Linked DNA regions of Homo sapiens. The protein of the gene in region 1 interacts with the protein of each later gene in a pairwise test. Each region holds a gene or a part of one and is shown on either strand. Other genes may lie near its edges.

What was found.
Region 2: the proteins of ZSWIM7 (region 1) and SPIDR interact in binary tests that used the Homo sapiens proteins (3 or more experiments, as listed by UniProt).

What each region holds. Positions count from the first base shown.
Region 1 is NC_000017.11:15,979,695-15,995,024, forward strand, and holds part of ZSWIM7 (zinc finger SWIM domain-containing protein 7), read right to left. Parts: intron 14,085-15,330; coding exon 14,063-14,084; intron 7,675-14,062; coding exon 7,572-7,674; intron 1,451-7,571; coding exon 1,346-1,450; intron 1-1,345. UniProt on the Homo sapiens protein: Involved in early stages of the homologous recombination repair (HRR) pathway of double-stranded DNA breaks arising during DNA replication or induced by DNA-damaging agents. Required for meiotic progression, hence for fertility.
Region 2 is NC_000008.11:47,251,264-47,266,802, reverse strand, and holds the start of SPIDR (DNA repair-scaffolding protein), read right to left. Parts: upstream 5,866-15,539; 5' UTR 5,845-5,865; coding exon 5,812-5,844; intron 1-5,811. UniProt on the Homo sapiens protein: Plays a role in DNA double-strand break (DBS) repair via homologous recombination (HR).

The DNA.
Region 1 (15,330 bases):
GGGCGGCTGGCCGGGCAGAGGGGCTCCTCACTTCCCAGTAGGGGCGGCTGGGCAGAGGCGCCCCTCACCTCCCGGATGGGGCGGCTGGCCGGGCGGGGGGCTGACCCCCCCACCTCCCTCCCGGACGGGGGGCTGACCCCCCCACCTCCCTCCCGGACGGGGCGGCTGGCCGGGCGGGGGGCTGACCCCCCCACCTCCCTCCCGGACGGGGGGCTGAACCCCCCACCTCCCTCCCGGACGGGGCGGCTGGCCGGGCAGAGGGGCTCCTCACTTCCCAGTAGGGGCAGCCGGGCAGAGGTGCCCCTCATCTCCCGGACGAGGCGGCTGGCCGGGCGGGGGGCTGACCCCCCCACCTCCCTCCCGGACGGGGCGGCTGGCCGGGCAGAGGGGCTCCTCACTTCCCAGTAGGGGCGGCCGGGCAGAGGCGCCCCTCACCTCCCGGACGAGGCGGCTGGTCTAGGCTACTCTCTTAACTACTGTGTTATACTTCTGGGGTTGGGGGGCGGGGAGTAGTGGCAAAACTCTTGCATATATTGGCCTGTACACACCTCTGGGGAGATGATTGCGTTGAATCTGATGTCAGAGAACACAGCTTTAGATCTTGAAGGGGTTTTGGTTCAATCCTGTCTCTTGCAGTTGAGATACACTTAGGGCACATCAGTTACGAATGTGGCCTCTTGGACAATGCTATACCCAACTTGCCAGCCAGGTCCCAAGATGTTTAAGAAGTTAACAGTGTAAAAGAAAGGGAAAGAATGGAGTGGACATCATTATTTTCTTCTTTCGCAAGACTTAGAAAACAGCTGCCTGCTTTCAGGAAGGTAGTGTTTTTTCCTTTGGAATAAGGTGTGTGTGAGTATGTCCTGTTTCTGCTTCATGGTCTGGACTCTGATGAAATTGGCAAAGGCTTAAAGGAATAGGTGAAGGTACTCATGCCCCATGTGAAGGTCAAGTGTGGTGTCAGGCTGTCTCACAGGTAGTGCAAAGATATACCACATGGCTGAAAGTAGGATATGCAAAGTTGTCAACATCGAATTTAGTTCATATTTTTATGGGGCCATCTAATTCCCCAGTGCCCACTTCTGGGATTCCCTTTTTTTCCTTCTCAAAGCTTCACTCATGATCTTTTACATAAAAATTCAGGAAATTGATGCAGTTCTAAAAATGACATTGCATTTTGAGAGGCTAAACCCCTAAGAGGTGACTAACTGAAGACAAAGACAAAAAACTACCATTTGTTTCAACATATAATAAGATTCCCATTTTGTAGAATAGTTAAACCACAAAGTAAGGGCAATTTCTCTCTACATTCAACTACAGTGGGAAGAGTCTTCCCCATCCTCACCAGGATGCTGTCACTCTTCCGTAGCACTGAGAATGCAAATGCAGGACATGAACAGTAATGACAAGAAGCCAAACATGTGTATGTTTTACTGGAACTTCCAAGGACCTACAAAGAAAGGATAGATGGGATCAGACCTCAGATGTGCTGGAAAAACCACCTCTTTCCCTTTTTATTTATGTAGACTCAGAGTTGCTCTGCAAATTGCACCGAGAAGAACTGCAGTAATGTTTTACATAAAAGAGGAAACAACTTCTCTTCCTCCAGTGTACAGACTCTCCCTTCCTCACCTCTCAGTGCTCACCTTTAGGACAGCATATAAAGGAACTGAAGAGTTTCAGATTAGTTCAACCAACCACATAAACCATTCTGTTCCTACGCCTAGTGATTCATGGGGCCCACTCTATGGGCTGACTGTAATAAGAAGGAAGTGGGGGGGGGGAATCTCTCATCTACATTTTATTGTGGGGGTTCTTAACCTTTGGTATTTCACAGCAGGTGTATAAATTTCTAAAGCTTCCTACATACCTAAAGAGAGAGTAAAAACAGGCAAAGGGTCAGTAGCAGGGCAGGAGTAAGATAAGTCTCAGGCCGGGTGTGGTGGCTCAAAGCCTGTAATCCCAGCACTTTGGGAGGTCGAGGTGGGAGGATCACTTGACCCCCCCCAGAGTTCAAGACCAGCATGGGCAACATGGTGAGACCTCGTTTCTATAGAAAAAAAAATTTTTTTAAAGTCAGGTATGGTGGCACATGCCAGTAGTCCCAGCTACTCAGGAGGCTGAGAAGGGAGGACTGCTTGAGCCTGGGAGGTCAAGGCTGCAGTGAGCTGTGACTGCACCACTGCACTGCAGCCTGGGTGACAAAGATCCCATCTCTAAAATAAAGATAGGTCACAGAAGAACAAAAGAAGAAACTGGGAAGAGGCTTTTGAAAAGCATTTGAGAGCAGAGAGAATAAATAAAGCAAAGACCCTTGCGAAAGGAATGACTCAGCTGTTCAGGATGGAGGTCTCAGGAAAAGAGGCAGGCCCAGATCTGCCTACTCATCTAGCAGGATGGAAGGAGGACACTGATACATAGTGGGTTGATAAGAGGCACAGTCTAACAGTCTTGGTGGTGGTCAAGAGGGACAAAAAGGAGAGGTACAGGAGAAACAAGACACATCTGTAGTATGATCGCACAAATTTGCTGGAGAAATCCTTTGTTTAAGTCTCTCTACCACCAAGCAGCCAAAAACTTTTTGTTGAGGTCTTCATTCCTAGAGTTAACTTCCCACCTGGAGGCGTAAGATTATTATTAGTATCTGAGGGAAGCAGAAATGTCCTGAGGGTGATTTTATAATGAACTGCCACTTAGGAATTTGCCACACAGCCTTCAAAGCACTTTTAGGCTCTCAGATGGCAATCTAAATGAAAAAGCAAGGACTTTTAAATTTTTTTTGAATTACAATGTTAGCACTCCTAGGATTCTTTAATCTTTCTTACCCACAGAGAATAAAGCTACAGGTATGGTTTGACTGCAAGAACAAACAGCAGGTTCCACTGCTGTGCTTTTGTCACATTTTCAGTGGTTCATATAATGCAGTTATCCCAGTACAGCTTTTATTAACATTTTTTTTTAATTTTTGTTTTTTGGAGACAGGATGTTGTTCTGTCATCCAGGCTGGAGTACAGTGGCAGATCATAGCTCATTGCAGTCTTGAATCCCTCGGCTAAAGTGATCCTCCCACTTCAGTCTCCTGAGGAGGTAGGAGTACTGGTGTGCGCCACCACCCTATGCTAATTTTAAAATTTTTTTTGTAGAGATGGGGTCTTGCTATGTTGTCCAGGCTGGTCTTTAACTGCTGGGCTTAAGTGATCCTCCCACCTTGGCCTCCCAAAGCACTGGGATTACAGGCATGAGCTACCACACCCAGCCTCAGTATGGTTTTTTGACGCAGTCAGAATTCCTCGGGAGATTTTAGGTTACCAGAAATAGCCAATGATTGGGTAAGAAGATGCCTACTGAACACATTCAAGATTTCAGTTCAGGCCGGGCATAGTGGCTCACGTCTGTAATCCCAGCACTTTGGGAGGCTGAGGCGGGTGGATCATGAGGTCAGGAGTTCAAGACCAGCCTGGTCAATATGGTGAAACCCCATCTCTACTAAAAATACAAAAATTAGCCAGGTGTGGTGGCGGGTGCCTGTAATCCCAGCTACTCAGGAGGCTGAGGCAGGAGAATCACTTGAACCCGGGAGACAGAGGTGGCAGTGGGCCAAGACTGCATCACTGTACTCCAGCCTGGGTGACAGGGCAAGACTCTGTCTCAAAAAAAAAAAAAAAAAAAAAAAAGATTTCCACCCAGTTACAAATTAGGTGTTGAAAAAGCACACCTTGCATATTACCTACTGCAAGGCTCTGATGTGTTATGAACATATCACCGAGACCATTCAGTATCAATGGAGAGATTTCCCCAGCATGTGTGGAAGCTTACACTGAAGGAAGAGCATTAAAGCAGATTGTTTTCTACTTAATCCTAAAGAAAAAACCCACAACATCCAGCAGTGACATGTATAATTCTTTTTTTTGAGACAGAGTTTCATTTTGTTGCCCAGGCTGGAGTGCAATGATGCAATCTTGGCTCACTGCAACCTCCACCTCCTGGGTTCAAGCCATTCTCCTGCCTCAGCCGCCTGATTAGCTGGGATTACAGGCATGTGCCACCATGCCTGGCTAACTTTTGTATTTTTAGTAGAGATGGGGTTTTGCCATGTTGGCCAGGCTGGTCTTGAACTCCTGACCTGAGGTGATCCACCCGCCTCAGCCTCCCAAACTGCTAGGATTCCAAGCATGAACCACCACTCCCGGCCTATAATTCTTGGGTGTCTAAACTATTACCAATGAATACAACTTTAGGTTTCTTCTCCCTTTAGTTATCTCGTCTCTTCTCTCTAGATTTAAACTTAAGCAAGCAGAAGCCTCTGGGATTCTGTACTGACTAGAATAATTCACTGCTTCCTTCTTATTGCGAGTCCCCGTCCATCATAATCCTCCCTGGATCATGCTGAATAAACAGCTGGTGACTTGAGATGGGGAGAAATTCTACAGAGTTTCCTTGCCTGAGCCTTTCAAGGGCTAAGACTCAAAATGTTCAACTGCCTAAAGCAATAAACACCAAAAGAGGTTAAATTTCGAATTTGCTTTTCGCTTATCTAGCAGTGGACAACTAATGAACCCAACAATCAGGCAAAATCTGAGTTAGAAACATTTAGAACTGGAAATTGACCTTAAGGATAACATAATTCAATTCCTTCACCCTTCAGTGAAAAAACAACTTCCTCTTACAGGAATTGCTCCTAGTTTTCCCGCTTATAGTCTGGAATGTTTATCCCCAGAAGGAGAGAGCTTTTTAAAAAAGGAACATGCTGGAAAGAGGATACTCAGACCATGGCTGACAGAACTTGTAGGAACCTCACTTGGAGGTGGTTTCTACTGTGGTTCTACTGTGGTTTCAGTTAGGTCGCAAGGAGAGGTGACCCATCTACATGGTCATCCATTCATGGGTACAGTTTTATTTTATGACCGCTCCAAGCCTCTTAGGACACTCCACAGTGTCTTTGTTATTGTTCCTTGTGTTTGGTGCTTCTCTCTGAAAACAGGATTATACATTCCTGGCCTGTTAAATACAGGCTGGCCATGTGACCTGCTTTAGTAAAATCTGAGTAGCCAAGCGAAAAATGTTAAAAATTGTGTACCATGTTTTCCTTTTTCTCTTTGAGATTCACAGTGTTCCAGATATGGGCTGCTTTGCCCACTGGGATCCCTGCATGAAGCTGTTTTGGAACAGAGCTACAGCTGGCTCCTGGTGGATACACAGCATGAATGAGATCTAAAACTTTGTTTTTGTAAGCCTTTCAGATTTGGGGTCATTGATACCACAGCATAACTTAGCCTCTCCTGACTGAAACATCCTCCTTATTAAGTGAATCAAAAAAGTATAAAAAGTGGCCAGGAGTGCAGGCTCACGCCTGTAATCCCAGCACTTTGGAAAGCAAAGGTGGTGGATCACCTGAGGTCAGGAGTTTGAGACCAGCCTGGACAACATGGTGAAACCCCATCTCTACTAAAAATACAAAAACTAGCCAGGCGTGGTGGTACACACCTGTAATCCCAGCTACTCAGGAGGCTGAGGCAGAAGAATCACTTGAACCCAGGAGGCAGAGGTTGCAGTGAGCTAAGATCATGCCAATGCACTCCAGCCTGGGCAACAGAGCGAGACTCTGCCTTAAAAAAAAAAAAAAAAAATTATAGAAAACAACTCAGGTGTCAGCAACATAACAATGACTTTAGAATTATTTCACATTACATCTGGAGAACAATAATATTAGAGTTGACCTATGGGATGAAGAATGACCTATGAAAAGATAACTAGCTGGGCACTAAGGCAGTATGTGACTCAACTTTTATCATCTCATACAACTCCTGAATTCAGCCAAATTCTTACTATATTACCATACAATGCAACCATTAAGGTTAATTTGAGGGTGTATAAGATTTCTACAGCCTCATTTAATTCAAAGTCCAAGATGACAGCCACAATTCTTGGAAGTTAGTATTTTATAATTAATAAAGCAATGTAATATATACCAGATGTGAACGACAAAAACTAAACCAGTGACTTAAGTTACTGTTGACCAATGGGAGGAACAAAAAGTCAACAGTAATTAAACTATTTCAAACAAAAGTCTACTTGCCAGGTCAAGTATTGTGCCCATAATGGAATCAAGACCAAATATCCCAAACTAAAAGCAATGGGAAAAACTTGAAGGTCCCTCTAGTTTCGGGTATTTTAGCTACCTAAAAACCAAAAATAAAAACACCAGGAAAGAGGACAGACACACCTCCTCAGGTACAAACTGCAAGTTCAGTGACTTTGATTATTCCTAAGTTCTCCATGAGAAAATTCATCTAATAATTGGCAGTCTCTTTTGAGTAGGACAATACCATCCAAGTTTTTTTTTGTGTTTTTGTTTGTTTGTTTGTTTTGAGACAGAGTTCTGCTCGTCACTCAGGCTGGAGTGCAATGGTGCGATCTCCGCTCACTGCAACCTCCTTCTCCTGGGTTCAAGCAATTCTTCTGCCTCAACCTCCCGAGTAGCTGGAATTACAGGCACCTGCCACCACACCCAGCTAATTTTTGTATTTTTAGTAGACACGGGGTTTCACCACGTTGGCCAGGCTGGTCTTGAACTCCTGACCTCAGGTGATCCACCTGCCTCGGCCTCCCAAAGTGCTGGGATTACAGGCGTGAGCCACCACGCCTGGCCATCTTATTTTAGTTACAAAAATTTCTGGAGGATTTTGTTAAGTGAAACTATGCTAAGTGAAATAAGCCAGGTACAGAATGACAAATACCACATGATCTCACTTATATGTGGAATCTAAAAAAAGTTGAACTCATAGGCTGGGTGCAATGGCTCATGCCTGTAATCCTAGCACTTTGGGAGGCTGAAGGGGGAGGACTGCTTGAGGCCAGGAGTTCAAGACCAGCTTGGGCAACATAGCAAGACCCTGTCTTTATTTAAAACAAAAAAAAAAGTTGAACTCATAGAAAAAGAAATAGTGGTTACCAGGGGCCTTGGGGTGGGGGAGGAAGAGGAAGATAAGGAGATATTGGTCAAAGGGTACAAAATTTCAGTTAGGAGAAATAAGTTCAGGGTATCTATGGTACAACATGGTGAATATATTTAATAACAAAGTATTGGCGGGGATGGTGCTCATACCTGTAATCCCAATATTGTGAGAGGCCAAGGTGGGAGGATCGCTTGAACCTAGGAGTTTGAGACCAGCCTGGGCAACATAGTGAGACCCTGTCTCTATAAAAACCAAGAAAAAGACTGAAGTACTGTATATTTGAAGATTGCTAAGATAATGGATTTTAAGTGATCTCACCACAAAAAAAGAAGTATATAAGGTATTAGATATGTTAATTAGCTTGATTTAGTTATTCTACAAGGTATCCATATATCAAAACATCATGTTATATACCATGAATATAGACAGTTTCTGTCAGTTAAAAGTAAATAAAAATTTTAAAAAATTATCAATTCGTTAATTTTACCAAGTTGGGGCAAAAGCCTTTTAACAGTCCAGGAAATATTTAAAGCTAGTCAACAGCTTCTACAGAGATGAAGAACATTTTGTCCTAAGGGGTTTCTGTAGGGATCACCCCCATCTCTAGACTTCTACCTGGTAAACACGCCTTCCACTGGGTGATGAGATTAAGGTGATGGACTGTCGATCAACTAGGTCCAAGGCCTGGGTGGCTGATGAGCCAAAGAGAAACTTCAGCCTGTGAAATAAAAACACTTCAGATTAGAAGGCCTGATTCTCAAAGTCACCTCAGTAACTTGCCCAAAGGATCACTAGACTTAGTATTTTTTAAAAATTCATTTTAATTTTGAAAAAAGGAAAATAATACAGCAAAACCCATGGACCCATTCACTCCCCAGAATTAATGTTAATATCTTGTGTACTTATTTCAGATCTTCTTGTATTATGTATATATGTGTGTGTGTATATATATTTATTTATTATTATTATTATTTTTTGAGATGGAGTTTTTCTTTTGCTGCCCAGGCTGGAGTGCAATGGCGCAATCTTGGCTCACCGTAACCTCTGCCTCCCGAGTTCAAGCGATTCTCCTGCCTCAGCCTCCCAAGTAGCTGGGATTGCAGGCATGTGCCACCACACCCGGCTAATTTTGTATTTTTAGTAGAAACAGGGTTTCTCCATGTTGGTCAGGCTGCTCTCAAACTCCAGACCTCAGGTGATCCACCTGCCTCGGCCTCCCAAAGTGCTGGGATTACAGGTGTGAGCCACTGCGCCTGGCCTGTATTATATTTTTAATAAAGGGAGTAAACTGTTAGTGATAAAGAAGCCCTCTTTATACTTCTCTGTAGTGCATCCTTCTTCCTACCTTCCCCTTATCCCTGAGGCAAGCACATGCATTTGTTGGTTTCCTTCCTGTTAATGTGTTCATATTAAATATTATATATAGAACATATGTATGCACACATACATAACAAACACACGTGCATAGATGTATGCATATACATATATAGTATTGTTTTAAAACATAAAAGGTATATTGTAGGCTTCTTTTTGCTGTTCCTGAAATAGCTCATGAAAAATAAAAGAAAATATAAAATATCGTAGACTTCTTTTGGCAACTTGCATTTTTTTACTCAATGCATTTTTGAAAATGAGGCATGTTGACGGACATTTATTTTTACTTTACCTTTGAATAATATTCCATTATATGTATACACTGAATTTTATTTAAGTACTCTATGTATGGACATTGTTTCCATTTTATACTATTATAAATAATATTCAATTATCCCCATACATGTCCCTTGGCATACATCTCTGAAAATCCCCCTTTAGTTTATGTAACTAAAGCATATGTTCATTTTCAACTTTAATAGATATTGCCAATAGCTCTCCAAAGTGGAAACAGGAGTGGTGGCTCATGCCTGTAATCCCAGCATTTTGGAAGGCTGAGGCAAGAGGATCACTTGAGTCCAGGAGTTCAAGACCAGCCTGAGCAATGTAGTGACACCCCATCTCTAAAGAAAAAAGAAAAAAAAAAACTAAAACACACAAAAAAGTGAAAACAGCACTCCCACCAGCACTGTATAAGACTTCTATTTTCTCAGGCCGGGCGCGGTGGCTCATACCTGTAATCCTAGCACTTTGGGAGGCCGAGGCAGGCAGATCACCAGAGGTCAGGAGATCGAGACCATCCTGGCTAACATGGTGAAACCCCGTCTCTACTAAAAATACAAAAAATTAGCCGGGCGTGGTGGCACACGCCTGTAGTCCCAGCTACTCAGGAGGCTGAGGCAGGAGAATCGCTTGAATCCGGGAGGTGGAGGTTGCGGTGAGCCAAGATCGCGCCACTACACTCTGGCCCAGGTAACAGGGAGACTCCGTCTCAAAAAAAAAATAAATGAAACAAACAAACAGAAAAACCAACTTCTACTTTCTCCATGTCCCCACTAACACCAGTATTATCAGGCTTTTTTATGTTGCCCATCTGAAGATAATAAATGTGTACTTTTTGGATTAGTAATAAGGCTATCCAACTGTTAAATGATATACAGGAAAAAACTTTGATATGTGAGAAAATTCTTATAATATTAGGTGAGAAAGGTTGAAGACAAAATTATATTTTAGGAACTCTCAAGCATGTTAACTTTTTTAAAGGAAACCTACAATTATGTCAAAATTAAAAGTTTAATTTTTTTTTTTTTTGAGATGGAGTCTCACTCTGGTGTCCAGGCTGGAGAGCAGTGGCACAATCTCGGCTCACTGCAACTTCTGCCTCCGGGGTTCAAGAGATTCTCCGGCCCAGCCTCCTGAGTAGCTGGGATTATAGGTGCAGGCCACCATGCCCAGGTAATTTTTGTATTTTTTAGTAGAGATGGGCTTTTGCCATGTTGGTCAGGGTGGTCTTGAACTCCTGACCTGAGGTGATCCCCCCGCCTTGGCCTCTCAAAGTGCTGGGGTTACAGGTGTGAGCCAGCGTGTCTGGCCTTTTTGTTTGTTTGTTTTTTGTTTTTTGAGACAAAGTCTCTCTCTGTCACCCAGGCAGGCTGGATTCCAGTGGTGCAATCATGGCTCACTGCAGCCTGAACCCCCTGGGCTCAAGTGATCCTCCCACCACCTCAGCCTCCCTAGCAGCCGGGACTACAGGTATATACCACCACATCCAGTTAATTTTTTGATTTTGTGGAGACAGGGTCTCCCTGTGCTGCCTAAGCTGGTCTCAAACTCCCAGCCCCAAGCGATCCTCATATTACAGGCGTGATCCACCATGCCTGGCCAAAATTTAATTTTTTGAAAAGGCAATAAACCGGCCAGGCGCGGTGGCTCACACCTGTAATCCCAGCACTTTGGGAGGCCGAGGAAGGTGGCTCACGAGGTCAGCAGATCGAGACCATCCTGGCTAACACGGTGAAACCCCGTCTCTACTAAAAATACAAAAAATTAGCTGGGCACGGTAGCAGGCACCTGTAGTCCCAGCTACTTGGGAGACCGAGGCAGGAGAATGGTGTGAACCCGGGAGGCGGAGCTTGCAGTGAGCCGGGATCGCGCCACTGCACTCTAGCCTGGGTGACAGAGCGAAACTCTGTCTCAAAAAAAAAAAAAAAAAAGCAATAAACCAAAATTTAAGAGTGATTATTACTGGGTGGTATGATTATTGATGCTTTTTATAGGTTTTATTTTCCAATAAAAGTTTTTTATAAGTGTGGGTTATTATTATTATTATTATTATTACTGAGTTGGAGTCTCACTGTGTTGCCCAGGTTGGAGTGCAGTGGCACGACCTCTGCTCACTGCAACCTCCACCTCCCAGATTCAAGTGATTCTCCTGCTTTAGCCTCCCGAGTAGCTGGGATTACAGGCGCATCCCACCTCCCAAGGTGCTGGGATTACAGGCATGAGCTACCACACCCGGCCTAAGTGTGGGTTATTTTTATAAACTAGAAAATAAAATGGCAGGGTTAAACTCAAACTGAAAAGTTAATGTTTTAAAGAACTTATATGACTTAACACAGAGTAAGACAAACCTAGTAAGGCTTCAAAATTAAAATGTTCAACTTCTTACTTCATTTTCCAACAAACCAGCCACATATACAACAAATTATTGGGGGAAATAGAAAAGAGTGCTTTGAATTTTTATATTAAACATATGAAGATTTAGTCTATAAAATAACAAAATACAAAAAACAATGAAATAAAATTTGTCGGGAACCTTACCAATCAATCTCAACAGTTACCTTTAAGAATTTTTTTAAGGCCAGGTGTGGTGGCTCATGCCTGTAATCCCAGCACCTTGGGAGGCCAAGGCAGGCGGAACTCCTGACCTCATCATCCACCTGCCTCGGTGTGTGCCACCTGTAGTCCCAGCTACTCAGGAGGCTGAGGCAGGAGAATCACTGGAACCTGGGAGGCAGAGGCTGCAGTGAGTTGAGATCGCGCCACTGTACTCCAGCCTCAGTGACAGAGTGAGACACTGTCTGAAAAAAAAAAGAATTTTTTTAACCTGCTCTGTCCACTTTAATACCTACTGTGAACATCTCTTGAATGCATTAAAAATTTTTCCATATCACTTTTAATGGTTACAAATAATTCTACTGTAAAGATGAATCATTTTTATTCTCCTCAAACTCCATGAATTGTTAGATTGTTTCTATGTTTTATTGCTACCATAAACAATACTGGATATTCATCACACTGAGAATATCCTCACTGTAAAATCTTTACAAACATCTATAATTACTTCCTGGGTATATGTTCTTTTATGTGGAATTTCTGGGTCAAAGAATATGTATGTTTTAAAGTTCCTATTGCCTGTTACCCTGCAATTTACATTCCTGTTATAAATGACCCCTTTCCCCATATTTGTGTCAACTTCTTTTCTGTGGTCACTAATTTTCTAGATGAAAAGTTATGTTATGTTAATTTGTATTTTTGTGGTCACTAGTAAGATTTGTCTTTTTCCTCCCAAAGGATTCGGCTATTTACATCTTTTATTCTTTGCCCTTTTGTTTTTAAAGTAGTACATTTTTTTCCAGTAATATTTAATTCTTATTAAAAATTTAAGAAATACAGTAAAGGTTAAGGCCGTTCCCTCAATTCTACCTCCTTCCTTGCCCCAAAGAAAAAACACTGGTAGAGCTTGGTATATATTCTTCAGAACTTTTATTTTTTTAGAGACAAGGTCTCACATCACCCAGGCTGGAGTGTAGTGGCACAATCATAGCTCACTGCAGCCTGGAACTTCAGGGCTCAAACAGTCCTCCTGGGACAGGTTTTGTTTTTTTTTGTTTGTTTTGTTTTGTTTTGTTTTTTTTTTGAGACAGAGTCTTGCCTCTGTCACCCAGGCTGGAGTGCAATGGCATGATCTCAGCTCACTGCAACCTCTGTCTCCTGGGTTCAAGCGATTCTCCTGCCTCAGCCCCCCGAATAGCTGGGATTACAGGTGCCTGCCACCATGCCCGGCTAATTTTTGTATTTTTAGTAGAGACGGGGTTTCACCATGTTGGTCAGGCTGGTCTCGAACTCCTGACCTCAGGTGATCCACCCGCCTCAGCCTCCCAAAGCGTTGGGATTACAGGCGTGAGCCACCGCACCTGGCCAGGATTTTTAAATGTAAGTGTGTATCAGTAATTAAGTATTACTTATACCTAGGTAGCTTTTACTTTTTTGGTCTCTGCATTTTTAAAATAACTGACCACTCTATATTATTCTCATTTAAGTAGTTGTATCAACTGCAAATAATGATAATTGTCTTTCCTTGCAGATAGGTACATTTGTAATTTCTTTTTCATGTGTTAGTTGAACAGCTACGCTTTTTTTTTTTTTTTTTGAGATAGAGTTTCGCTTTTATTGCCCAGGCTGGAGTGCAATGGCATGATCTTGGCTCACAGCAACCTCTGCCTCCCAGGTTCAAGCAATTCTCCTGACTCAGCCTCCCGAATAGCTGGGATTACAGGAATGCACCACCATGCTTGGCTAATTTTGTATTTTTAATAGTGACAGGGTTTCTCCATGTTGGTCAGGCTGGTCTTGTATTCCTGACCTCAGGTGATTCGCCCGTCTCGGCCTCCCAAAATGCTGCGATTACAGGCGTGAGCCATTGCGCCCGGCCAACAGCCACAATTTTTAAAACAATGTTAAATAAGAGTGGCAAATATGACAATACTGGATATGGTGTTGGCTATTCAATTGAGACAAATTTTTAAGAATCATGTCAAGAAAATATTATTCCTAGTTTCTAAGAGTATTTTTTATTTTTTATTTTTTTTGAGATGGAATTTTGCTCGTTACTTAGGCTGGAGTGCAATGGCACAATCGCAGCGAGATATGCAACCACAACCTCCCGGGTTCAAGCAATTCTCCTGCCTTAGCCTCCCAAGTAGCTGAGATTACAGGTGTGTGCCACCACATCCCACTACTTTTGTATTTTTAGTAGAGACAGGGTTTCACCATGTTGGTCAGGCTGGTCTTGAACTCCTGACCTCAAGTGATCCACCCACCTCAGTCTCTCAAAGTGCTGGGATTGCAGGTGTGAGCCACGGTGCCTGGCCTTTTATTCTATTTTTAAAATTATTTTCGTAGAGATGGGGGGTCTCCCTATTTTGCTAGAGCTGGTCTCGAACTCCTGGGCTCAAGCAATCCTCCTGCCTTTGCCTCCCAAAGTGCTGAGATTACATGTGTGAGTCACAGTGCCTGGTAGTAAGAATATTTTTATTTTTTATTTTATTTATTTATTTATTTATTTATTTATTTATTTTTGAGACAGAGTCTCACTCTGTCCCCAGGCTGAAGTGCAGTGGCATGATCTTGGCTCACTGCAACCTCCACCTCCCAGGTTCAAGTGATTCTCCTGCCTTAGCCTCCTGAGTAGCTGGGACTACAGGTGCCCACCACCACGTCCAGCTAATTTTTTGTATTTTCAGTAGAGATGGGGTTTCACCATGTTGGCCAGGATGGTCTTGATCTCCTGACTTCATGATCCACTCACCTTGGCCTCCCAAAGTGCTGGGATTATAGGCGTGAGCCACTGCGCCCGGTCAAGAGTATTTTTAAAAATCAAGAGTTGATGTTGAAAGGATTTTAACATTAATGGTTAAAAAAAAATCAAATACAACAGTATATGTACTTACGATAACAGATATTCATCAGGAACTGTAAAATGAGAATGGAAAAAAAAAGTTAATCATATTAAGCAGTGACCATTGACATAAAAATCTTAAAAAACACTGTAACTAAAAACACTTCCGTGTGTGATGGTCAACTGAACCTATGCATCTGGTTTTACTCCTTCCCCAAACCCCACTAAAACCATAATAAAAGGATTTCCTTTTTCTTTTTTTGAGACGGAGTCTTGTCCTGTCACCCAGGCTGGAGTGCAATGGTGCAATCTCAGCTCACTGCAACCTCCGCCTCCCGGGTTTAAACCATTCTCTTGCCTCAGCCTCCCAGGTAGCTGGGACTACAGGCATGCACTACCATGCCCAGCTAATTTTTTTTGGTATGTTTAGTAGAGATGGGGTTTCACCATGCTGGCCATGCTGGTCTTGAACTCCTCACCTCAAGTGATCCACTGGCCTTGGCCTCCCAAAGTGCTGGGATTATAGACATGAGCCACCGTGCCCGGCCAGATTTGTTTTTAAAAGTATGAATTCCAAAGGATGAGAAAGACAGGGAGAAACAACAGCCATGATACATTGGAAGCTGATAGAAGAGTGGAAAATGATTTATAAGACCTAAGAAAACTGAATCCTAGGCCAGCAATGGGGAGAGTCAAGCACCAGCCTGAGTTACACTCCAAAATCCACCTCTCCCCTTCCCCAAACCCTAACGAATTGGTGGCACCAAATAGCTTCATTAGGGGTGAAACAGGGATATGAAAATAAGACTCTTTTCGAGTACGTTTGAGAAGTAGTGGGACCCCAGTTCCCTCCACAGCTTTAGGTGACTGCCTTTCCCTCATTCTGGCAAGAGACTAGGTTTATTTTCTGGAGAGGTTCAAACACAGGCTATTTGGACTAGGGAAAAATACTAGGTACAGTGAAAGTCAGGGTGTCACACTGAAAACAGGATCTCCTGCTCTCTTCCCTAACATGGCTCCCATAACACAAGCAATCAGGCCTTCACACTTCAGCCAGGAGACTGGAAGTCTTCCCTAGGTATACCCCAAGAGAAGTGGGAATGACACTGAAATGGTTTCCCCAACTAAATAGCCTACTGAGAACAACTATAGTGACGTTCATATTCCGTAAGCCCCTCTACCACCCAGAGCTTCCAATATACTTTTTAGTCTTCCACTCTGAAATATGACTAGACAGCCAAGGGTTACCAGACAACAAAGGAAAAAGGAAATAGAATAAAACAAACAGAAGAAAGTTAGAGGAAAAACTGCAGAAAGGAG
Region 2 (15,539 bases), on another chromosome or scaffold:
CTAGAAACCACTGGATTTTCCACTTTAAAAGGGTAGATTTTATTATCTATAAAACTGAATAACAACATTGCCAATGGGACTGCAAAATTATACAGATATAACCACTTTGGAAAAGTTTGTCAGTTTCTTATAGAGTTAAACATCAAATTACCATAGGTTCTGGCAATTACATACTTAGGCATTTATCTCAGAGAAATGAAAACTTATGTTCACACAAAAACCTGTACACAAATGTTTATAGCAGTTTTATTTGCAATAACCAAAACCTGAAAACAGCCTAGAGGTCCTTCAATAATAAATGTTAATCCAAACTCTGGTATATCCATTATATGGAACACTACTCAGCAATTAAAACAAAGAAACTATTGGCCAGGCACAGTGGCTCATGCCTGTAATCCTAACACTTTGAGAGGCCGAGGTGGGTGGATTGCATTGCCTGAGCTCAGGAGTTCAAGACCAGCCTGGGCAACACGGTGAAACCCTGTCTCTACTAAAATACAAAAGATTAGCCAGGCATGGCAGCAGGTGCCTGTAGTACCAGCTACTTGGGAGGCTGACGCAGGAGAATTGTTTGAACTGGGGAGGCGGAAAGTTGCAGTGAGCCGAGATCGCGCTATTGCACTCCAGCCTGGGCAAGAGAGTGAGACTCCAACTCAAAAAAAAAAAAAAAAAAGACAAAGAAACTACTGATATGCACAACAACTTCGATAAATCATGAGAGTTTTATGTTGTATTAAAAAAAAAAAAACTTCAGACCGGGCATGGTGGCTCACGCCTGTCATCCCAGCACTTTGGGATGTCGATGCGGGCAGATCACCTGATGGTATTAGGAGGTGGGGCCTTTGGCAGGTGATTAGAAGTTACGGGATTGATGCCCTTATAAAAGAGACCTTGGAGAGCTCCTTTACCTCTTCCACCATATAAAGACATGGTAAGAATATGGCTGTCTGTGAACCAGAAAGCAGGCCCTCACCAGACATGAAATCTGTCAACACTTTGATCTAGCAAGGCCCAGCCTCCAGATTTAGTTTATAAAACAATTATTCTCTATATTACTCACAATTGTCTGTGAATTTACAGTTATCTCAATAAAAATAAATGGAATGAGATGTGCAAGGGACTGCTGAGTTTTACAACAAACTTTTTTTGTACTATTTTACCTTACCTATGAACATGTATTATTTTGACTAAAAAGAAAACATGTTTTCCCTTAAATGAGGTACTCTATGCAAAGTGCTTGACATATAGAAAGCTTTCAATAAAAGCTCTCTTTCCTCTCTTTCCCTTTGGTTTGAGGAATAAGACAACCTCTAGGCCAGGCACAGTGGTTCACGCTGTAACCCCAGCACTTTGGGAGGCCAAGGAGAAAGAACGGCTTGAGGTCAGGAATTCGAGACCAGCCTCGGCAACACAGCAAGACTCTATCTCTACAAAATAAATTTAAATATTAGCCAGGCACAGTGGCATGGCCTGTGGTCCCAGCTACTCAGGAGGCCGAAATGGGAGGATCACTTGAGCCCAGGAGCTCAAGACTGCAGTGAGCCATGATAGCACCCCTGCACCCCAGCCTGGGCGACAGAGTAAGACTGTCTCAAAAAAAAAAAAAAAAAAAAAGACAACTGAGATGTCAATACTAAGTAGTCTAATTCTGAGATGTAGAGCCACCAGTAAATCATTCAATGAGACTATCAAGGCCTTAAACTGGAACCATGAGGTACTCCTACCAAGATAACTATGAGAATTTCCTGCCATCACTGAAAAACTTGAAAATGAGCCTTTTTCCTATTTCTTGTTCAAGAAGCTGAAAGACAGCAATTCCAGGGAAATCTAGAGACAAAGCAGTAGAGGATGTACAATATCTTTGTCCTCATATGATTTCTTTAATTATCATGGTGTTTCATTATTAATTGCTTTCATTATCACCAACATTTATTGAGTGTTTATATGCTCGGTATATCATCGCATGCATTCTCATAATTTAATCCTCACATCAACCCAGCAATATAGGTATTAACCCCATTTTATAAAGAAACGACAACTCAATGTTAGGTATATTGCCCTATTCAGAGAACTTGAACCCAGGAGACAGTGGTTGCAGTGAGCCGAGATCGGGCCACTGCACTCCAGCCTGGGTGGCTGAGCAAGACTCCATCTCAAAAAAAAAAAAAGAAAATCTCAAAAGGCAAGCTGCTGCCCAAGAACAGGAGTATATGTGGTCGTCCTTGGCTACTTCATAAGGAAAGGGAGAACACAAGGCACAAAGGGAAGAATCACAGCATGTTAAGGGATAGTGAGGGGCTAGGGCAGGAGAAACTCATGGAGGAGAGGGGAGTGAGGAAAGAACTAAGATACCCCAGCCTTTGAGCAACTGACTGCCCTAATCTCCCTGGGACTTAAATACCACATATCTATATATGTGATATATAGGATATATCTATATATCCTAACATCAGTTAAGAGGCAAACAACTTTCTCACTTCTCATAGGTTCGACTTTCTGAATCACCATGGGTTTCCTCCTCTTCCTCTTTCAATTGCAGTTGCCTAAATCTCACCTTCCATTTGTAGTCTGTCAACCCAGTCCTTTCTATTCTATTCCTAATTCCACCACCTTAGTCCATAACCACACCACCTTTCATCTTAAGAGTCGTGATATATCTGTGTGGCTTGTCCAAAACTGCAAAATCATTCAGCTGTACTGCTGAGGCAGATATCCGAGTCTTCGGACTAGGGTATTTCCTCCTGTTTCTTCACACCTGGAATACTTGCAAATCTTCTAAACTAGTTCTCCTTTCATTAATTCATCAGATATCTAGTACATACAAGGGATATGACAGGTATTCTGGGGAATATGGGCTGAAGAAATAGTCCCTAATCTTAAATGTCTAGAATATAAGGGAATAAAGGTGTAGACACAAATAAACCTAATGTAAGACATGGAATAGTAAGAGTTATTTACATAAAATTCCACAGACTACAGAAGAAAGTTCATTTACAGCTGGGATAATTTGGGAGGTGAAATTTGGGGTGGGCCTCAATGGATGACTAAGATTCCAATCAGCAGAAATGGGAGAACTGGCATTATTCCAAACCAAGAACATACAGAAGAAAGTTCATTTATAGCTGGGATAATTTGGGAGAAGGTGGGATTTGAAGTAGGCCTCAATGGATGATTAAGATTTCATGGCCGGGCGCAGTGGCTCACGCCTGTAATCCCAGCACTTTGGGAGGCCGAGGCGGGCGGATCACGACGTCAGGAGATCGAGACCATCCTGGCTAACACGGTGAAACCCTGTCTCTAATAAAAATTTAAAAAAAATTAGCCCGGTGTGGAGGCTGGCGCCTGTACCGAGATCGCGCCACTGCACTCCAGCCTGGGCGACAGAGCGAGACTGCGTCTCAAAAAAAAAAGGTTTCAATCAGCAGAAATGGGAGAACTGGCATTATTCCAAACCAAGAACATACGCAATTACCACCAAGGGGCAAGCAAGTACAGTGACGCAGTAGTCTAGTTTACCTATAAGATAAATAATGAGCAAAGCTGTAAAGGAATAAGACACAGATATTATGGAGGCTGTGAATAACAGGCTGAGAGCCTGAACAAAAGCAAGGTCTGGGGCAGACTACCTGGATACAAATCCTAGCTTCTTCCCTTAACTGCTGTGTGACCTTAGGCAAATTACTTAGCCTCTCTGCTGAGCCTCAGTTTCCTCATCCATAAAATGAGACTAATGGTATCTACCTCACAGGACTGTTAAAATAATTAAATTAGTTAATACATATAAAGCACTAAACACAGGATAAGTTCTGCAGTAAATTATGATGTAGCCAATAAGAAGTAAAATGAGATTTAGATAGAGGACTAACAATATAATCAAAGTAGTGCCTAAGGGAAAGTCACCTCTGAAGATGGAATGGGAGCATGCTAGCCGGCACTACACATCAACACTCCAACCATTAAGTACTTTTGAGACTGACCGAGGGAGACAGAAACAAAAAATAAATTCCTGGGAAATACTGTGGAAGCCAGCCTCCAAGGTGGCCCCTGTGATCCCCACCTCCTGGGGACCCTCTATAGTCTCCTCATACATTGTACCGGGTTGGTCCATGTAATGAATAGACAGGAGATGGGATGTCACTTCTGAGTTTAGGCTATAAAAGACACGGGGACCGATATCTTGTTGCTCTCTCTCTTGCTCTTGGGAAAGCCAGGACCCTGTTGTGAGCTGCCCTATGCAGCTGTCAAGAAACAACCACGTGAGTGAGCTTGGAACTGGATTCTCCAGCTCCAACGACCCTTTATTTGACTGCAGCCTTGTGGGAGATCCTGAACTACAACCACTTAGTTGAGCCGTTCTCAGATTCCTGAGTCTCAGAAACTCTATGATATAATAAACATTTGTTATGAACTGCTTCAGTTTTCAGCAACGTATTACACAATAGACAACTGTACGACTACTAAAAAAAATTGAGTAAAAAAAAAGAGTCTTGAAAAATGACAAGATGAAGAGACCAGAAGTGAACGTCAATTCAAAAATACTAAGATTTCTAAGTCAAGAGAAACTGTTAGGGCCTGGAGGACTAAGGGTGAGATGATGATTATGTGATGCACTAAGTTTGAGCTCTAGGGAAAGATCTAATATAGATCTGAAAGTCATCTATATAGTTAACTTCAATGTATGACATTGTCCAAAGCAAATATGGAACATGTGAAAAAGCACAAGGTCAAAAATTAGAACATGGCACGAACACAGTAAAGAGAAGAAAATGAGCTGTTGCAAGACAGGAAAACAATCATGGATGTTCCAAAAGAAATAAAAGCAGGTGGTGAATGTGTCAAACGCTCCAATGATCAAGTAAACAACTTACACTGGATTTAGCAAATTTATATATTTCCTTGATTTTTTTCACACATTAATGCTTCAGAAATCAGACTGTATCTTATAATCAAGAGGTGCCTGAAATGAATTTCTTTATTCCCTAAAGCCAGTCACAAAACTGATAGTGTGGGCTGATAATCAATGGTATTTGAGAAGCGAGAAAGCATGGTAGTGGTAAAGAAGTTGAACCAGTATATGTGGTCTATTTTTTCCAGGAAGTTTTCAAGTAAAGGCAAGAGTCAAGAAAGGAGGTCCTGTGTTTGCTTTTTAAAAACCGTTTTACTATGAGACAAACGTATTTGAAAGCAAGGAAGTTAGAAGAAACTTTAAAACGATAAAGGACACATGCCATGACAAGCACAATTAGCAGAACAAAAAAGGATGCACTCGCGGATACAGGTGCAATCAAACACCATTCAAGCAACGATTCCTAGGCACCCGCTCCCGTTCTGGAACCCGAGGCAGCGCGGTGCCCACGGATTGGGCAGTCAGCCGCACAGTCCCCTCCGAGTGCGGCAGGAAGAGAGACAGAGTTGACAGTGGATTATCCGCGGAGACGGGTAAAACCACGCCAGGATTCCCTGCGGTTTGGTACATTACACCAGAATCAAAAAGAGACAAGAGTAAGGCCAAGTACCCCCGAGGCGGACATATGCTCCCGCCCGCTGCGTCCCTCGGCGGTCCCACCCCTCGCTTTCCGTACCGCCGCTGAGGGCCCGGCCCGCACGCCTGGACCGGAGCCGGACCTGGGGGCGGTACCCCACTGCGCGGGCTTGCTCCACGCGCGCAGACGGGACCCGCCACCACCTAGCCCTTCACCCCCAACGCCCACCCTCTCTCACCCCAGCACAACGGGGCCAGCCCCGCGCCGGCCCGCCGCTTCCCCGCAACGCGGGAAACGGCGCGGCGCCCACTCCCGCCCCAGAGCCTACCTTAGAGCCCCGAGCGCGGCTGCCGCGGGGCATCTCCGGGAGCGCCGCCTGAGCGCACCGCCTCCTCAGCGCGCCGCCGTCCCACCTCGGCGCGCCGCACCGCGCCCTGCCATTGGCGGGCGCTCGGGCGCAGGGCGGGGCTTCGGCGGGGGGCAGGGCTTCTCCGGCCCCGGCGCTCCAGGGCCTCCCGGATGGCCTAGTCGGGCCCGGAGCCCGGAAGGAGTGCCCCGCGGAGAGTCGAGCTTCCTTCCCCGGGGCTGGGGGTTCCGCGGAGCTCGCTCTGGGCTGTGGCGTTGCTCGCCCGCGAGCTCCTGGGGAGTTCGGGGGAGCTGCTGGGCTGGTGCCTGGAGCGGGGGCCGCCTCCAAGTATTGTCTTTCGAATTAAGTTACTGTCGTCTGTGTTGTCAGGCAACAACTGACCTTAAATAAAAATGAAAACCAGAAGTAGGCTACACATGCAATAGGCTACACATGCAATAATGGATACTTAAGGAATGGGAGTGGCTGCTGGTGACTGGAGCAGAGAGGGTGTGGTTTCCCCATGTTTCGGGGCCGGGGGGAAGGAGTAAAGTCTGTGTTCAGAGCCCAGACGCCATGTCGGTCATCACATCACCGGGAGAACTCGTGGAGCCTGAGGAAAGGCTACGGGGTGCCAGAGTCTGAAGGGGCGGAAGATTGCATTCCTATCACGTTCGCCGTGGCGCACAGGGGCTCCGCTGGGGCCGCCGCTCCCGCAGGAGAAGTGGGCCTGAGACGGTGCGGCGTCGACCATAGCCGGCCCAGCAGAAGCCGGGGAAGGCCACAAGTGTAACTGGGTCCGAGTACTGTGAAGAAGGCGCCTCCCATGGAGAAAGCTACCGGGTAGTTTAACAAGGTGGAAAAGCGTTGGCCTGGGGAGGAGGAAAGGATGCTCAGAAAGTTGCCTCAAAAGGACGCAGAAGTGGAGGTGAATCTTCTGTTTCAGAGGCATTTTTTTGTGCCTCTGTGAGAATGCATTGCTTCCTGGTTGATCCATCTTCAGGTTTTCTCTCCGTCCTAGTCCCTGTTCTGCCACCATTCTGTGTTTGAATCTGGTACCTAAAGCCGCAGATACTTGGTTCATAGTAGATGTCCACTCTGCAGTGGCTGAAAACACGGAAGAAAAACCATCTTTGCCTGGGAAGGACATTATTGCTAGTGCCATTACTGTCAACAGTTGGAACAAGATAAACGGCATGCCCAATCTAGTTGAGGATTTTGGACACCGGGCCTCCCACTGGGACTCCGCCGAGAAACCAGGTCTGCCATTGCCACCTCCGCCGGGCCTTGCTGTCTTAGCACAGTAAGTGCACCCGACCGCGCCCGGAGTCCCCCTTTCACTCCCACAACCAGGCCTGTGGTGAGGCTCCCGCTTGTCATCTCCACCAGGAGGTGCTGTCCTGCCGAAATGTTGGGGTTTTTCTCCAAACTTCCTCCTGTTCAGAATTCGCCATCTCAGTAGTGGCATGGACATCCACCTGGCCACAGCTCACGCAGAAACCTAGGAATTTTTGTGAACACGTTTGTGTGTCTTACTAATGTGTCCACTCTCCACTACCACTGTTTCCCAGGCCACTAGTATCTTTTGCCCAGACTGCTAGTAGCTCTTAACCCATGTCCCCTAATCCACTCTTGCCCCTCACACAGCACACACATACAATCCATTCTCAACACAGACACCACAGTGAGGTTTATGCTGTCTATACTGGCCTTCCCTTTCGGTGGTCAAACGTGCCTAGCTCCTGCAGCCTTGGGGTCTAATAAGCATTTGCTCTTCCTTTTGCCTAAAAGGCTCTGGCCTCCCTCTGCCATGCCATTTCCTATGCGCCTGTCAAACCTGAACCTGGTGGCCAGCTTCCCTAAACTAGCAAGCCTGAACCTCCCTGCTCTTCCATGTCCGCAGGACCTCATGCTCTGTTGAAGATGTTATAACAATTAGAATCTAAATAATTACGAAAGTTATTTGTTTACCATGTGGTTCCACCTCCATGCTGTAAGGTAATACCATTTCTATCTTCTCCGTTTTTGTATCTCTATCAGTTAGCACAGCGTCTTCCATATACAAAGTACTCAGTTATTTACTATGGATGAACTGCTAATTGTGAAACAGAAATGACTTGCCAGAGGCTGCACAGCTAGTAACTGTTCAGGATTAGAACTCATATGTGATACCAAGGTCGATGCATTCTCCACTACACCAATCAGATCATAGTAGAATCATGAGGAATTTTTCACTTGAACATATGAACTCAGCAAAAGGGAACTGTTGATAATAAAGATGAGCCCCTGCAGAAAGGGTCTCTTAAGTCCTCTCCAGTCTTGCCTCATTTCCTCCTCAGCAAACACTCAATGGCAAACATCAAGACAAACCAGAAAGTCCTTCTTTTAACTTTTTTCTCATCAAACTTTTTGGCCTAGTTGCTGTTCTGCAGATATCTGTGGTCTTCACTCTGCTTACAGCCATCCTAAGGATTCCATGGAGATCCATGGAGTCTGGGGAGGGTGTGACTCACAGGAGGGTCTCTGCTGCACCTTCAGGGCAGCTCTCTTCCATCTGTCTTATATATGGGGCAAGATTGTATTTAAAGAAAGATCTAATATGGGGAGAAATGTTTAGAATCTACTCATCCATATTCTTTTTTAGTCTGGTAGATGACAGTGCTCTAGGCTATAAATGAATCCAAGATTTAAACGTGAAAAAATGTCAAGGTATTAGAATAAAACATGACCAGATTCCTTTATAATCTTAGAGTGGGGGAAAGGGGAGAAAGTCTTTCCAACTATGACTCAAAATGTCCTAGTCGTAATAGGAAAGATTGATCGATTCAACTACATAAAAACCCTAATTTATGCATGGCAAAAAAAACACAGTAGGCAAAGACAAATGGCAAAATTAAAGAATAGTTCATATTGATGTTATATAGAAACAGCCCCCTAAAGTATAAATTACTCTTGGAGGAGTAAGCAAGAGTATTCCTTGGGGGAAACCCAGTAGAAAATGGGCAAAGGACAAGGGCAGTTCACAGAGAAAGGAACACAAATGGCTTTTATACATATGAAAAATGTACTGTCTCACTCATGACAAGAGAAATGCAAATTTAAACTGCACACCTACCATATTGGCTAAAATCTAAGTCCTGGACAACACATATTGGGGTAAGGGCCCTCTAATGTATTGCTAACAAAAGTACAAAATTATGCAACTCCTATCAAATATGCTTCAAAATTATAAGTGTATTTACTCTTTAAGCTAGCAGTCCTACTTCTGGAAACTAATCCTACACATACACCTGCACACATATTGTCTTAGTCTGTTTTGTGCTGCTATAACAGAATATCTGAGACTGGGTAGTTTACAAAGAACAGATACTTACTTTCTCACTCTGAGAAATCTGAGATCAAGGAGCTGGCATTTGGTGTCTGGTGTGGGCCTTCCTGCTGCATCTTCACATGGCAGAAGGCAGAAGGGCAAGAAAGCAAGCTAGCTGAATGCTGCGTGAAGCCTCTTATAAGGGCCTTAATCCTATTAGTGATGGAGGAGCCTTCATGGCCTATTTGGCAACACCTGAATTTTAGAGGATACACATATGAAATGATAACACATGTGAAATGATATGTATGTAAGGGTATTTTTTGCAGCATAGTTTGCAATAGCAAAAGACTAGAAAAAATTGATATATTTGTTTACTTGGAGAGTAAGGAGACTGTTAAATGTGCCATGGTAATACCTTCATAATGATCTCCAGCTTTACTAAATGAAAAAAACAATTGACAGAATATGATTCATAGTGTGCTGCCTCTCTAGTGCAAGAAAACAGGAAAAGACCATATATTGCTTATATCTGCTTGAAGAAATGCTACATCGAAATAGATGTATAGGAAATAAAAGGGGTTACCTGGTGGAGGGGAGGAACCAAGTGATTGGGATGAGGGGAGGAGGACTTCTCCATCTCTACTTTTTTATGTTGTTTTGTATACCTATTTTTAAAACAGATTGAAAAATTAAGAAAAATGTGTACTTTGTTCTAGAGTGATGATGGTTGTACAACTGTGAATATTGTAACAAATCACTGAATGGTACACTTTAAAGGGTGATTTTATGGTATTTGAATTATATTTCAATAAAATAATTATTTTAAAAATGTTTGGTGAGGGGCTGGTAGCATCAGCAGCATCTGAGAAATTGTCAGAAATGCAAATTCTTGGACTCCATACTAGACCAATTGAATCAGAAACCTGGTGGACAAGGCCTGGCAATCTGTTTTGACAAGCCCTTCAACTGACTCTGATGCATGCTCACCTGTGAGAAGCACTGGACTGGATGCAATTGCACGGAGTAACAGGCTGTTGCACAGTGGTCTCCCACAAAACATCCGACTAGGAGATCCGTGCACTCAGGGTGGGAAGAAAAGGCCTTGTCAGCCTTTTCTTTAATCATTGACTACAATAATGTTAATAATAATAATATGACATTTATATGTGCAGGCAATGTTAATCCCTTTATATGAAATGAAAATAGTGCCTCACCTGATGGGTTAGAACACAGCAGATACATAGTAAGTGCCCAGGAAGTGTTAGCAATTATTATTATCATTTATCTCAGAAAATCTCTATGACAATTGTGTGAAGTACAATTATGATTACATATGAGATAATTGCACCACAGACATGTTATATAACTTGCAAAAAGCCACAAACCCAATAAGTGGTAAAGCCCAAAGCACAGAGGTTTTCAACTTTGGTGAATCTCACTTTATCTCTTTTTCCTGATCACACTTTGAGAACCATGGATCTAGGTTCTCAAAAGTATACAAATGGTTTATATATATATATATAAAAAGTAGGAGTGGAAAATAGAGTCAAATGCAGATTATTCAAGGAATGTGCATTCATTCATTCAACAAACAAATATTGAAGTTTACTATGTGCCAGGCCTATGTTAGGCCTTAGGCCTTAGTTGGTTTTCTTAGTCAATTTGGGTTACTATAACAACCCATCAACTAACAACCCATAACTGCATAGCTTAAAAAGAATAGAAATTTAGGCCAAGCACAGTCGCTCACACCTGTAATCCCAGCACTTTGGGAGGCCAAGGTGGGCAGATCACGAGGTCAGGAGTTCAAGACCAGCCTGGCCAACATAGTGAAACCCTGTCCCCACTAAAAATACAAAAACATTAGCCAGGCGTGGTAGTGGGGCCCCTGTAATCCTAGTTACTTGGGAGGCTGAGTCAAGAGAATCGCTTGAACCCGGGAGGCGGAGGTTGCAGTGAGCCGAGATTGCACAACTGCACACCAGCCCAGGCGACAGTGCGAGACTCCGTCTCAAGAAAAGAAAAAAAAGAATAGAAATTTATTTCTCAAAGTTCTGGAGGCTAAGAAGTCCAAGATCAAGGCTCTGGCAGATACAGTGTCTGGTAAGGGCCCATTCCTCATAGATGGCACTTCTAGTGTGTTCTCACTCACATGGTGGAAGGGGCTAGTTATCCCTTTGGGGTCTCTTTAAAGGCATTCACCCTATTCATGAGGGATTTACCCTCATTACCTACTCACTGCCAAAAGTCCCACTTTCTCTTTTTAAACTTATCTTTTAATTGACAAAAATTGTATATATTTATGTTGTACAACATGTTTTGAAATATGTATACATTGTGGAATGGCTAAATCAAGCCAATTAAAACATGCATTACCTCACATACTTAGGTTTTTTGTGGTTGAAAACACTTAAAATCTACTCTTAGCAATTTCCAAGTATATGATACATTTTGTTTGTTTGTTTGAGACAGGGTCTCACTCTGTTGCCCAGGCTGGAGTGCGATGATGCAGTCACGGCTCACTGCATCCTCAGCCTCCTGGGCTCAAGAGATCCTCTGCCTTAGTCTTCCAAGTAGCTGGAACCACAGGCGCATGCCAACACACTTGACTTTTTTTTTTTTTTTTTTAATTTTGTAGAGACAGGGTTTCACCATGCTGCCCAGGCTGGTCTCAAACTCCTGGCTTCAAGCGATCCTGCTGCCTCAGCCTCCTAAAGTGTTGGAATTACAGGCATGAGTCAGTGTGCCCACCCAATACATTGTTATTAACTACTGTCACCATCTTGTACAATAGATAGATCTCTTGAACTTATTTCTCCATCTAACTGAAATGTGGCCTATCCTACCCATCTCTCACCCCAACCCCTGATAACCATCATTCTACTCTCTGCTTCTATGAGTTTGACTTTTTTAGATTCCACATGTGAGATCAGCAGTATCTGTATTTCTGTGTCTGGCTTATTTCACTTAACATAATGTCCACCAGCTTCATACATGTGGCAAATGACAGGATTTCCTTTTTTTAAAACTGAATAGTATTCCATTGTGTATATATGCCACATTTTCCTTATCCATTCACGTGTTGATGGACACAGGTTGATTCCATATCTTGGCTATTATGAGTAATGCTGCAATGAACATGGCAGTGCAGATGTCTCTTTGACACACAGATTTCAGTTCCTTTGGGTATATACTCAGCAGTGAGATTGCAGGATCACATAGTAGTTTTATTTTTCAGTTTTCTTAGCAATGTCCATACTGTTTTTCCTTAATGGCTATATTAATTTACATTCCTTTTTAATGGCTGCATAATATTCCATTGGGTGGATTACTATTTTGTTTATCCATTAATCAATTGATGAACCTTTGTGTTGTTTCCACGTTTTGCCTATTATGAATAATGCTACGCTGAACATTTGTGGACAAGTTTTGTTTGAACACCTGTTTTCACTTGGGGGTATATATGCAGGAGGGGAATGACTAGATTATATTTACAGTTTTAGGTTTAACTTTCTGAAGAACCACAAAACTCTTTTCCACAGAAGCTGCACCATTTTATATTCCCTACAGCCATGTTAGAGGGCATCCTTGCCAATACTTATAATTTTCCCCTTTAAAAAATATTTTAACCATGCTAGTGGCTGTGAAATGGTATCTTACTGACTTTGACTTGTATTTCCATAATGATTAATGATGTTAAGCATCTTTTCATGTGCTTTTTGGCCATTTCTCTATCTTCTTTGGAGAAATATCTATTCAAATCAGTTGCCCATTTTTAAAATGGGTTGCCTTTGTTTTGGTTGGGAGTTTAAGAGTTTTTATTGTTTTGCCTGGAGTTATTACTGGCTAACACGTATCTGGGGTGTACCAAACTTGCTTTATTGAGGCAAAGTGGTACAATAAATTTTTTTTTAAATTTCTAAAATGAACTTTTAAATGAAAATCACTCACCACAACTTTACAGCACATTATCATTTGCTTTAGTGACACAAAATTAGGCTTAAATTACTGGGAATTTACAAATGCACTTTAGAGACCCTATTAACAAGAAGTCTCAACGAAGAAAAATTCAGGACCAGGTGGCTTCACTGGTAAAGTCTACCAAACATTTAAGAAGAATTAACACCCTGTAATCCCAGGACTTTGAGAAACTGAGGCAGGAGGATTGCTTGAGCCCAGGAGTTTGAGACCAGCCTGGGCAACATAGTGAGACCCTATGTCCACAATTTTTTTTTTTTTTTGAGACGGAGTCTCACTCTGTCCCCAGTCTGGAGTGCAGTGGCGTGACCTTGGCTCACTGCAACATCCACTGCCTGGGTCCAAGCAATTTTCCTGCCTCAGCCTTCCGAGTAGCTGGGACTACAGGCGCGTGCCACCACGCCCAGCTAATTTTTTTGTATTTTTAGTAGAGACAGGGTTTCACCATGTTGGCCGGGATGGTCTCAATCTCTTGACCTCGTTATCCGCCCACCTTGGCCTCCCAAAGTGTTGGGATTACAGGCGTGAGCCACTGCACCCGGCCCACAAAAAAATTTAAAAAAAAATTAGCCAGACATAGTGGCACATGCCTGTAGTCCCAGTTACTTGGGAGGGCTAAGGTGGGAGGATTGCTTGAGGTGAGGAGTTTGAGGTTGCGGTGAGCCATGATTGCAGCACTGCACTCCAGCCTGGGTAACAGAGTGACAGAGTGAGACCCTGTCTAAAAAAAAAAAAAAAAAAAGAAAGTAAAAAGGAAGAATTAACACCAGTTATTCTCAATCTCTTTTAAAAAATAAAATATGAAGGAACACTTCCCAATTCATTCTGTGAGGCCCGTATTACCCTGATACCAATGCCAGGCAAAGATACCATACAAAAAGAAAAATAGAAAGTAATTCTTGGATGTCACAAGATGGTTGACTGACTGGAAGCTCCTAGGTTCATCCCCAACTCCAACAAAAAATCAAAATATAGTGAAGAAACAACTATATTTCAATCAAAATAACTAAAGGAGAGCTCTGGAGAACAATAAAGAAACAGCAGAAACTCTGTAGAGTATGGAAACCCAGGATGGATGCACAGGGAAGGAAAGGATACACCTCATCTCTGCCACCCTATCCACTCAGGATCAGCTTGGAACCAGGAGAGCCTTCTTCCTGCAGGGAAAAGGTGAGCAGGAGGACCCCGGCAAACCCCATCACCACCGTGGACACATGCAATCTTCATTACCAGAGGCTCCCACAGTCCTCACAAGCTCTGAGCCCAACTGAGGGAGCTCCCCAGAGTTCATATGCTGAGCTATCTAAGAGAAAGAGCTGATACTGTGCCCTCCCCCATGGTCTGTGCTGCTGCTGCACTGCACCATCTTGGAACCAGAGCCACTGCTAGAGTGTGTTGTGCTCTGGGAGTGTGCAGCTATGTACCCCTTCATCCCTGTGGCTTTGCCAACACTAAAACCATCTTACCCAGTAGCACGTCATCCCCAAAACAGGCTGTTCCAAGCTCTATCCCCTAGGGCCAAGCTCCATCACCCCCATGTGAGACACTGGTGCACCCTCCCCTTATGGTTGAGCTGAAGTGACTCCCCACCTCCCAGGGACCTCAAGCATCCTACAAACCATAGCAGACACAATCCTGGTACCATGATGAGGCATGCCCTGCTCCCCAGGGACCTTATGTCTTTGGCACTCCAGAGCCAAAGGTGAGGCAGCACTTTGCCCCGGGGCTCTGAGCCTCTGGCACATTGGAGCAGTTGCACCCACCGGTGCCACAGCTGATATAGAACCATGCCCTAGGGAACTGAGCCTCCACTGACCCATGTAGCCATGCTTTCTGGGTTTTAGCTGCACCTTACACCCCAGGGAATCAGAGTTTTGCCTGAGCTGGGTCATGTCAACCTCCAGGCTAAACATCCACAGTGCCCCCCCTACCTGGAACTGGACTAGTCCCTCAAAGTCTGAGCTGCTGAGGTGCTCTACCTCTTTGGAGAGTGGAGTCATTGCTGTGCTGCTCTATTCCCCCCAGTTCCCAAGCACAGGGGCATCTTGCCATGTCCAAGTCCTTGCTGTTGCTGCCCCTAGACTCATAGAGCCTTGGCTACTGCCATGTCCCACCATCCCAGGGTCCAGAGTGACCACTGTTTGGTACCTCATCTCCCAGAACCTAAGCTCTTTTTGTAGCCTCTTGGTTCTGTGTTCCAAATTGTAGCTGTGTCCTGCTCCCCAGGACCTAAGCCTCCAGAGCACCTCTTTACTCCATAGCTGTGTCAGGGCTTCACCCTGCCCTCAGGGTCAGAACTATAGCTACATCCCAGCCCCCTCGGCCCAAACTGCTGGAGTGTGCCTCAGCAAAAGACCCTATCTTAGCAAGAGAACTGCCTCTACTTGTGCCTTGGAAATTGAACCAGTACCTCAAATCC